Regions from separate parts of the Homo sapiens genome. Here regions 1 and 3 are each reported to be linked to region 2. Evidence: microRNA targets listed by miRTarBase, many of them from high-throughput screens and not tested one by one. Region 2 holds a microRNA gene; each other region holds the end of a gene's coding sequence. Distances are from middle to middle.
The links. The annotated mature microRNA hsa-miR-6732-5p reads UAGGGGGUGGCAGGCUGGCC and lies in region 2 at 1,675-1,694, shown strand. An mRNA with a match to its seed (bases 2 to 7 or 8) in the 3' UTR can be bound and repressed. Matches are read on the target gene's strand: a 7mer-m8 pairs with bases 2 to 8, a 7mer-A1 pairs with bases 2 to 7 and ends in A, and an 8mer does both.

Region 1: miRTarBase lists GPS1 as a target of hsa-miR-6732-5p. Seed matches in the 3' UTR shown: 7mer-m8 at 3,019-3,025.
Region 3: the mRNA of ZNF436 is a reported target of hsa-miR-6732-5p. Seed matches in the 3' UTR shown: 7mer-m8 at 2,271-2,277.

What each region holds. Positions count from the first base shown.
Region 1 is chr17:82,056,860-82,060,182 of GRCh38, reverse strand. It overlaps GPS1 (G protein pathway suppressor 1), which reads right to left. Exons shown (of 13, transcript NM_001321092.3): 12 at 3,209-3,323; 13 at 2,713-3,130. The coding sequence ends at 3,056. DUS1L (dihydrouridine synthase 1 like) reads left to right here. Exons shown (of 14, transcript NM_022156.5): 11 at 90-235; 12 at 1,365-1,402; 13 at 1,767-1,842; 14 at 1,929-2,677. The coding sequence ends at 2,068. Among named protein-coding and RNA genes, the nearest start is that of GPS1, 6.6 kb to the right of the region's middle.
Region 2 is chr1:37,478,561-37,481,904 of GRCh38, forward strand. It overlaps MIR6732 (microRNA 6732), which reads left to right and starts at 1,670; the gene lies at 1,670-1,729. It overlaps ZC3H12A (zinc finger CCCH-type containing 12A), which reads left to right. Exons shown (of 6, transcript NM_025079.3): 3 at 1,730-1,869; 4 at 3,041-3,275. RefSeq lists enhancers at 365-1,191, 815-1,354, 1,128-1,422, 1,192-2,018.
Region 3 is chr1:23,359,169-23,362,168 of GRCh38, reverse strand. ZNF436 (zinc finger protein 436) reads left to right here. Exons shown (of 4, transcript NM_001077195.2): 4 at 1-2,721. The coding sequence ends at 200. Among named protein-coding and RNA genes, the nearest start is that of ZNF436-AS1, 8.3 kb to the left of the region's middle.

The sequences.
Region 1 (3,323 bases), not on the chromosome of region 2:
GCCCCTCACCCAGACTCAGACCCGTGTGGCTGTGGCTGCTGGGCCCCTCTCACAGTGTCCTTGGGCTCTGCCCGCTGCCCTCCCCTCAGGCCCAGGGAGGGGAGCAAGGAGAAGGCAGGTGCGCGCAGCAAGCGGGCCCTGGAGGAAGAGGAGGGTGGCACGGAGGTCCTGTCCAAGAACAAGCAAAAGAAGCAGCTGAGGAACCCCCACAAGACCTTCGACCCCTCTCTGAAGCGTAAGTGCTGCTTCCGCTGATGGGCCCGAGAGAGCCTCTTCATCACCCCCATCCTCCCTGTTGCCAGTAACAGGAACCCAGACTTGTGGTCAGCAAGGCTCAAGGCCCAGAGCTGGAAGCAGACACCTGGAGGGCTTGGCGGAGTAGTCAGCCAGACTTGGGGTCAGAACGGGGACCCTGTGCAGGCCACAGCCCGTGCATGTGGGACATGGGCTCAGTGAATCAGATGAGGCTATGGGACAAGCTTTTCAGCCAGGTGAAGCTCGTCTACAGCTCAGGGCCTCGGGTCCCTGCGGCTGCCCCTGCCCAGCCTCACACAGGACACCTGAGCAGCTGCTGAGAGGGAGGCTGGGGTCCCCGGGAGTGTGTGCATGGGTCTTGTTGCTGGGCCAAAGGCACGGGACGAGGCTGCTCGCCCCTCTCTTAGCCACCAGTGGCAAGGCCTCAGCCTAGTGCTGTCTCCCCTGAGACCCCTGGTCGCCGCCGTATCCTGGGCCAGCCCATCTGGGCCCTCAACAGGTGGCAGCCTCCCAGATCTCTGACAACTTTACAAGCTGCAGGGGAGACCAGCGATAACCCTGAAACCTTCCCATGTAACCCCCAGGGCGCTGGCCAGTCCAAGAGCAGCTGCCACATCAGGCTGGTGCCAGCAGTCCCTGCCTGCCACACTGCCCCCCACCAGGCCACTGAATGAGGCAGCTGGGAGAGGCAGGAAGTGGGGCTTCAGGCTGAATTCTTGATTTGACCCTTCTTGGCCCTTTTGCTTGGGAGACCTGGAACTGAAGGGCATGGAACCCCCCTTGGACCCTGTGGGCAGGAAAACTGCTCCCCTTGTCCCTGCCTGGGGGTAGGACAGATAAGGCTGCTCGTCCTGCGGCGGCCCCCCAGCCCACCTGCTTCCTATCCGTTTCCTGCAGGATGGTGCCCCCTGCATCCCCTCACCCATTGCTCACGGAAGGAAAAGCAGACGTGGCCAGCCTGCATCCTCTGCCCTCCCTGAGCCTCCTGGCCTGGCTGGCCACAGCTGGCATGGACGCCATCAGCAGGCTCCGTGCAGGCGGACGGGGCAGCCCCCACAGCCAGGGCACCCTGGCCCTCACTCACCAGCACCCTTTTGTTCTTTTCCTAGCAAAATATGCAAAGTGTGACCAGTGTGGAAACCCAAAGGTGAGTGGGTTCCGGCTGCAAGCCACCAAGGCTTCAGCTTTGGGGGTGGGCAGGGTGGTCTCTGCACTGCTTGGGGTGGCAGGTCTGGTGCCCGCCCAGCTGGGTTTGCAACGTGGCTCAAGGTGGCATGGATGCCTCAGGACGGCCCCTTGCTTCCAGCCAAGCCCCTGCCCAGGCCTGGAGGGGAAGAGAGTCTGGGTGGGTGGGGGTGAGGGAGAGGCATCTGGCTTGGGAGCAGTTCCCAGGGCTGCATCCAGGCCGTGGGCATCTGGCAGAGGCTTCCCCAGTGGGGCTGCTCCCCTGCTGGCCAGCCTGGCCCCGGGAGTGGTGCTGGCCACAGGCTCCCGAGATTTCCTGTGCCCAGGGCAACAGATGTGTGTTCAGCCTGTGCCGCGGCTGCTGCAAGAAGCGAGCCTCCAAAGAGACTGCAGACTGCCCAGGTGAGGGCGCCTACCACCCGCCCCGCAGCAGGCAAACAGACCCCCTCCGCCTCCTGACCCCCGACTCCTCTCACTCGCTCTGCCAGGTCACGGATTGCTTTTTAAAACCAAATTGGAGAAGTCTCTGGCCTGGAAAGAGGCCCAGCCTGAGCTGCAGGAGCCTCAGCCAGCAGCACCTGGAACACCAGGTGGCTTCTCCGAAGTCATGGGCAGTGCCCTGGCCTGAAGGCCCACAACCCCCACCCCCAGGACTGCTGCTGGAGCCTGGACACGTCCTACTTAAGAAAATGCCTTTTACTCAGGGAATCTCCTGCTACTTAATGTGGAAAGACACGCCCATGTCCCCCTTCGGCCCACTCTGGGGGCCTGGAAATGCTGCAGTGGGGAGCAGGCCCCAGGCTGGACCTGCCCTGTCCTCAGCACGCGTGTGCAAAAGTGAACAATAAATCATTTCAAAGATGCGAGAGCCCACAGCCTGTGACCACTGCCCTCTCAGACCCAGGGAGGCATGAGCCGGGGCAGGTGCGGTTGGGGCCAGTGGGGGCTTCTGAACAACAGGATACATCTAAATGAAGGCAGCATCTGGGTAGACAAAAGTGGGGGCTTAGGTCCCCTCCCCACCTCCCCTAGGCGCCTCCATAGGCAAGTGGCCAAAGCCTCCGGGAGCTTCGTGATGCCTCACAGCCTTGGAAGCACCGCCTGCGAGGCCACAGTGGCTGCTGCTGGGGGCTGTTGAATCTGAGGGCCAGGCTTCTCATTTCTCTCACCAGGCCCTGCCTCCAAGCCTAGTCCCAGGGAGACAGCCCTCAGGAACCCAAGGCCACCCAGGGGTGACCAGAGCCTGCACGGCAGGAAAGAACAGCCAAGAGCAACGCTGAGTCTGCTCTTTAATGGACACCGCCCACTTGTCTGCACCTGACTGAGGCGGGAACAGGAGGGGTCTGGGAAATGGTGCCACTGGGCCTGGGTGCCGCACAGTCTGCTCCCTGGGGACAGAAACCCACAGGGTCGAGCCCTGCAGGCCTCTCCTTCCAGGAAGGGCCACAACTAGCAGCCGCCTGCCTCCTCAGCCCCAGGGAGGGCACACAGGCTGGGTGGCACCCAGTGGCCAGGCCCCTTAGCTGGGCCGCAGGCAGCACTGAGCCGCCTGGAGGTCCGAGGTCCGTGGAGGTGGGGAGGGGGTGCAGATGTCCTGGAGGCCAAGGTTCACCCCTCACATGTTGGTGCTCATCCGGGACTGGCTGTTGGCTGGAGTCAGCTCCCCCTGGCTCCCTTCTCTGGGCGGGGACTGCAGGGGAGACAAGGAGCAGCTCACAGCCACCAGGCCCCACACGCCGTGCGCCTGCCCCCCCTCAAGCCAGCCCACCTTGACATGGATCTGGTTGCGGAGCACAGCTGCCCGCAGCATCATGGCCTTGGCGCGGCGCTGGAACTCCTTGCCCATCAACAGAGACTTCTCAAAGGTGGTGCTGCGCTGATCC
Region 2 (3,344 bases):
CCCTGCTCATTCCCTGCGATCAGGGTCTGTGCCTGCCTTCGTACCTGCCTGAGCATTGACGTACAGGGTAGTGATAAGCATAGGCCCTGGGCTTGCGTCTCTCTTCCACCGTTAACTGCTGTGTGACCCTGGTGACTAAGCTGCCTTCTCTGGACCACAGTTTTCATCTGAAAAACAGGGAAGGAGTTGATGATGGTATAGTGCCCTCCTCACAAGCTTGCTGATGATTCAGTGTTAGACACTTATAACAGGGCCTGGTTCACAGCTCTCAGCAAATGGGAACTTTTATTATAAGCAGGCTGGCAGATGTGGCAGAGGGACCGGGAAGGATGAGTGCTGCCCTGGGCTGGACTTTGTCTCCCCTACAATTTAGAGACCTTCAGACCCTGGTGCCCCAGTCTTGCCCCCAAATAGCCTCCATGGCCCCCAGCTGCCCCACCTCCCTCCCTAGCTTCTCTTAGGGCTCCAGCTATCACCCCTTACCTCCCCCACTCCCATTAAAGACACCCACAGGATGTGGTTGGCCCTGGACTTGCCTCTTTTGCGTAACATTTATTCTGTTTTATTTGCCAAATACGAGAGTCTAAGCTGTTCACTGAGGGGGCAGTGAGACGTGGGGCTGCTGGTCCTAGGAGCTCTTCCATGACACCTAGTGTTACCTGGGAGCCCCAAGCCCCAGTCCCCCATCCCTCAGGAAATCCAGTTGGAACCCCTACTTTGCAGGGCCATCTTTGGCCTGAAGCCACCAGGAAAGCTGTCCCACTGACTGACCCCTCTTAAGGAAGCTGCAGACTGCTGGGCCCATTTTCAGATAGAGGAACGGAGAGCTGCGGCAGCCCAGGAGCCCTGCCAGGCTTCCTTCTGGGTGCAGCCACCTGTGGGTGGGGCGCGGCCTCGTCTGAGACCAAGGCAGGGCCCATGCCTTACTCAGCTGTCCTTGCTAAGAGTCCCCTAGCATCTTCCTGATGGTCTTTCTGCCTTGGGGTGAAGAGGCATTTGGGGGAATTGCCATCTTGGGAGGAAAAGCAGTATCCTTTCACTTTCAGACTGAAAGGCTCCTGGGGAACTTGCTTCACTCCGGCGCTTTCTGTCCCATGCTGAAGGCTGGAGTCGCCAGCCCCTTCCCCTTTGCCTTTCTCAGGCCCCAGTCCCTGAGGTGTGTGTGAGGACTGAACTTTAATCCGGAACAATCTGGTTTCTCCTCGGTCAGCCCAGCCGGTGCTTCCCCCGCCCCCACCCACGCTGCAAGAGGCGAGGGAGGGGTGGTGACTCAGTGTGCATGTGTACATCTGTCCCTGTGGTCCCGGCAGCTCGCCGGGTGGGGCAGGAACCAGAAGTCTCGCGGCACCTTTCCCCCACCCCCAGGTGTGTTGCAAGTGGCCTGGCCCTCCCCCACCGTGGGGAGCAGTGCTGCCAGCTTCCTGGGCGCTTCCTCACTTTCAGGAGATGGAGCCTCAGGGAAAGTCCCAGCGGGGCCTGGCCATCCTGGAGCTGTGGGAACTGGCACTGGGAATGGAGGCCTTGGCCTTGGGCCCCACCTGCAGAGGGCCAGGGCCTGAGCCCTGGGGAAAGGGGAAGGGGCTGGTGACTCCAAAGGGGAAGGGACTGCTCACTACCACCACCAAAGCCAGGGCAGGGGTGGGGTGTGACCACCTCCCTCCTCCTGCTCAGGCCTAGGGGGTGGCAGGCTGGCCATCAGTGTGGGCTAACCCTGTCCTCTCCCTCCCAGCCATGGGAACAAGGAGGTCTTCTCCTGCCGGGGCATCCTGCTGGCAGTGAACTGGTTTCTGGAGCGGGGCCACACAGACATCACAGTGTTTGTGCCATCCTGGAGGAAGGAGCAGCCTCGGCCCGACGTGCCCATCACAGGTGAGTGGTGCCTCTGGAGGTGGGATGGTCTTACTGCCCCAGCAGCCCTGGTTCTCCCCAAGAGAGACCCTCTGGGAGTGACCTACAACTTCTAGAACTCAAGCAGGGACCAGCATTTCTTTTCTCAGTTTTTTCTGTCCTTAGCAACCTGCTCTGAATGGTGGTCATTGGAGGTCACCTTGTCCAGTCTTCTGCCTCAGATCTGGAGCCCCTCCCTCATCCTACTGGTGGGCAGGTCGCTCTTTCAACATCCCCAGTGGCAGAAGCGCAGTATCACATAGTGGTTAAGCCTGTGGGCTCTGAGTCGAGACAGCCAGAGTTGGAATCCTGGCTCTGTCCCCTCTTGGCGCCCTGGCCTGGACAGGGACCCCTCTTAGCCCTGCTCTGAGCCACATGCTCCTCATCTGAAACATGGGGTCGGTGTCAGCAGGGGGTGTTGACAGCATTGCCTTCCTCGTGAGGTCATATAAGTTAACACACGGTAAGTGCTGAGAAGAGTACCTGGCACATGGTAGATGCTCAGTGTATGTTAGCTGTTACCACTGTTCTTGCAAGAGCCCCCAGCCTTTGGAGGTAAAAACTGAATCAGTTTCTCTAGAAGTCTTGAGATCTGGGGGCAGCCTGTCTGGGACTGTAGGCTCCAGGAAGAGGGGCCCTTTCCACTTGCACACTTCTGTGTCCCTGTGGTCCCAGCAGCTCCCCAGGTGGGGCATGGTGAGTGGCCTGACCTTTTCCCACCATGGGATTTAGCGACCTTGTCCTGGCAATGCAAGGGACAGAGCCAAGATACTTCTCCCACCCCAGAGCAAGCTGCGGCTCATTCACGGACCCCTCAGAACAGGCTGGATGAAAGCCAAAGCCAAGACCACATCTGGCTTGAACAGGCCTGATGTCCAGAAGGAGAAAAGGAACAAGGCCAGCTCTGTGCTTGGAGCCTCTGCCATGCAGGCCCTGCCGCCTGTGTTCAGATGTTCTTGGTCTTCAGGCAGCAAACTGTGCCACGCCAAGGGAGGGGCTGGGGCATGGAAGAGGCCTCAGCAGAGTTAGTTCTTGCCCCGGTGACCTTGGCGTTAACCACTCCTGTGTGTGGCCATCAGCAGGTTAGGGAGCCCTGTAGGCCTGGCTCTAGGTCCCGCTGGGCCCTGACCTGTGTGCACCCGTCACCTCCCAGACCAGCACATCCTGCGGGAACTGGAGAAGAAGAAGATCCTGGTGTTCACACCATCACGACGCGTGGGTGGCAAGCGGGTGGTGTGCTATGACGACAGATTCATTGTGAAGCTGGCCTACGAGTCTGACGGGATCGTGGTTTCCAACGACACATACCGTGACCTCCAAGGCGAGCGGCAGGAGTGGAAGCGCTTCATCGAGGAGCGGCTGCTCATGTACTCCTTCGTCAATGACAAGTATGTTCCCTCCCAGAGGCCCTGACAGACTTGGGGTCCACAGGGGAAGCCAGAGGTGCCCTTGGCAAG
Region 3 (3,000 bases), 14 Mb from region 2:
TAATTAAACATCAGAGAACCCACACAGGGGAGAAGCCCTACGAGTGTGTGCAGTGTGGGAAAGGTTTCACCCAGAGCTCCAACCTCATCACACATCAAAGAGTTCACACGGGAGAGAAACCTTATGAATGTACCGAATGTGAGAAGAGTTTCAGCAGGAGCTCAGCTCTTATTAAACATAAGAGAGTTCATACGGACTAAGCTGTAATTATGATGGCTGAGAAATGATTCATTTGAAGATACAATTTTATTTGATATCAATGAACGCCCTCAAGACTGAGCTGCTTTTATCATACTCTCCTAGTTGTGGGCCACGATTTAAACCATCAGAGATGACAAGCCATTTGAAATTCTGACCCTCAGCTTTGGGAATGTTATCTCCTCCAAAATGGTGATTTTTATTCACTCAATGGGTTACTTCATTAAAAGCAGCCCCACAAGTAACTGGAAATCTGAAGACCAGGGGACAAATGCTGGTGAATGCTTAGGCCTGGAAATGGAGTAAATCTTTCAATGTTATTTTCTCCCATCCTTGGCCCAAGGAACTATGCTAAGTGAAACGTGGGACTGTAATAGGGTGGTAATGGCTGCTTTGGAAAAAGGCAACTAGAGACTCTGCCTAAATTGCCACACCTATTCACACACCATAGTAGTTGGGCACACACATCTTCCCTTCCAAAGGGCTTTTTCCTTGAGTTGCTCATGCATTTGTATCTTTTCCATCTTCCTGAGGGCAAGATTTTGCACGATGAAGGCAATGATTGTAACTTTTCTCCTTCTCATTGTTTCTAATTAGCTCCTTTAAAGCTTGCATCTTTGTGAAGGCTAACTGAAGATACGGTTGGAAAGGAAAAATGAGACACAGGTTTGGGGACCAAGGACCCATCAATGATGGTGACTTTAGCAGAAGATGCCCACAGTTATTACTGCCATTAATCAGATTTATGAATTTTCTTTGGGGATCACTATAGGGAATATTGTATAGAAAATATCTTCAAGAAAAGATAGGACCATCAGTGACAGTTAAGTGTAAGGAGCAAGTGGAATTGAGTCCTTCAGGGAAGGAACCACAGAGTCCCTTCCCAAGGAATGTAGGTCGTTTCTGTGTTCTTTCCCTTCTAATCTTTAAGATCAACTCTTCCTATCCTGCTAACTCTAAGATTTGATAAGGGCCACATCCCAGTGTTTATCTTAGCTTGCATCAGGGCATGTGTATGTACAGTAATGTGTATTCCTGTGGTTTTTCTAATAGAAACTGAATTTACAGAGACTTAGCATGTTCTTGGGTGATGTGAGTCATGTGACAGAAGTACAGACATAACTCCAATGTGAGAAATGTCCTTTTTTCATTATGGAAAATAATTTAAACACTAGTGCTTTAGTGTGCACTCTCCTGTAAGGTCTGTCTTTGTACAGAGCTAAGCACTTGTTTGTATGTGTTTGTCAATTGTGGAAGATAATGACCAGACAAATAGGTCGATTGTCCTATTCTCAGAATGAATTATCTTCTATGGTAATGAAGAACTCTTTGGCTTAGTCAGAAGGAATTAACGAACCTCGGTAGGAATGTATTTCCATCCTCCCACCCTACAGATATAAGAGGTTAAAATAACAGTTCGCCCAATTTAAGCCCAGTAGTGTCAGTTTTCCTAATCTCAGTCCAGGTAGGAATTAAGAAATATCTCAAGTGTTGATGCTATCCAAGCATGTTGGGGTGGAAGGGAATTGGTGCCCAGAAAATGGGACTGGAGTGAGGAATATCTTTTCTTTTGAGAGTACCCCCAGTTTATTTCTACTGTGCTTTATTGCTACTGTTCTTTATTGTGAATGTTGTAACATTTTAAAAATGTTTTGCCATAGCTTTTTAGGACTTGGTGTTAAAGGAGCCAGTGGTCTCTCTGGGTGGGTACTATAATGAGTTATTGTGACCCACAGCTGTGTGGGACCACATCACTTGTTAATAACACAACCTTTAAAGTAACCCATCTTCCAGGGGGGTTCCTTCATGTTGCCACTCCTTTTTAAGGACAAACTCAGGCAAGGAGCATGTTTTTTTGTTATTTACAAAATCTAGCAGACTGTGGGTATCCATATTTTAATTGTCGGGTGACACATGTTCTTGGTAACTAAACTCAAATATGTCTTTTCTCATATATGTTGCTGATGGTTTTAATAAATGTCAAAGTTCTCCTGTTGCTTCTGTGAGCCACTATGGGTATCAGCTTGGGAGTGGCCATAGATGACCGCATTTCCATGACCTAACTGTATTTCACCCCCTTTTCCTTCCCTACTGTTCTTGCCCCACCCCAACCAGTTCCTGCTGCTGCTTTTGGCTTCTTGGAGGTGAAGGGCTTAAAACAAGGCTTCTAAGCACCCAGCTATCTCCATACATGAACAATCTAGCTGGGAAACTTAAGGGACAAGGGCCACACCAGCTGTCTCCTCTTTCTGCCAATTGTTGCCCGTTTGCTGTGTTGAACTTTGTATAGAACTCATGCATCAGACTCCCTTCACTAATGCTTTTTGCATGCCTTCTGCTCCCAAGTCCCTGGCTGCCTCTGCACATCCCGTGAACACTTTGTGCCTGTTTTCTATGGTTGTGGAGAATTAATGAACAAATCAATATGTAGAACAGTTTTCCTTATGGTATTGGTCACAGTTATCCTAGTGTTTGTATTATTCTAACAATATTCTATAATTAAAAATATAATTTTTAAAGTCAGCAAACCTGAGAATTATTTTAGTAACCCAGCACTGATTCATTTAATGGCTTTTCATCAGAGTCATTAAAATTGGGCATGATTGTCTTTACACTGATGCATTCCGTACAGATGTACAGATATATTACACAGATGTTCTGTAGGAATTTGGGAGTACAGTATCTTGAGCCCTTTGGTTATTGCCATATCTTGGGAAGATGAAAAAACCTGAGTAGTTTTCTACGAAGGTTATGCTGGTGACAGAAGCCACATAGGAATATTTGGTATGGGTGACTCATTAG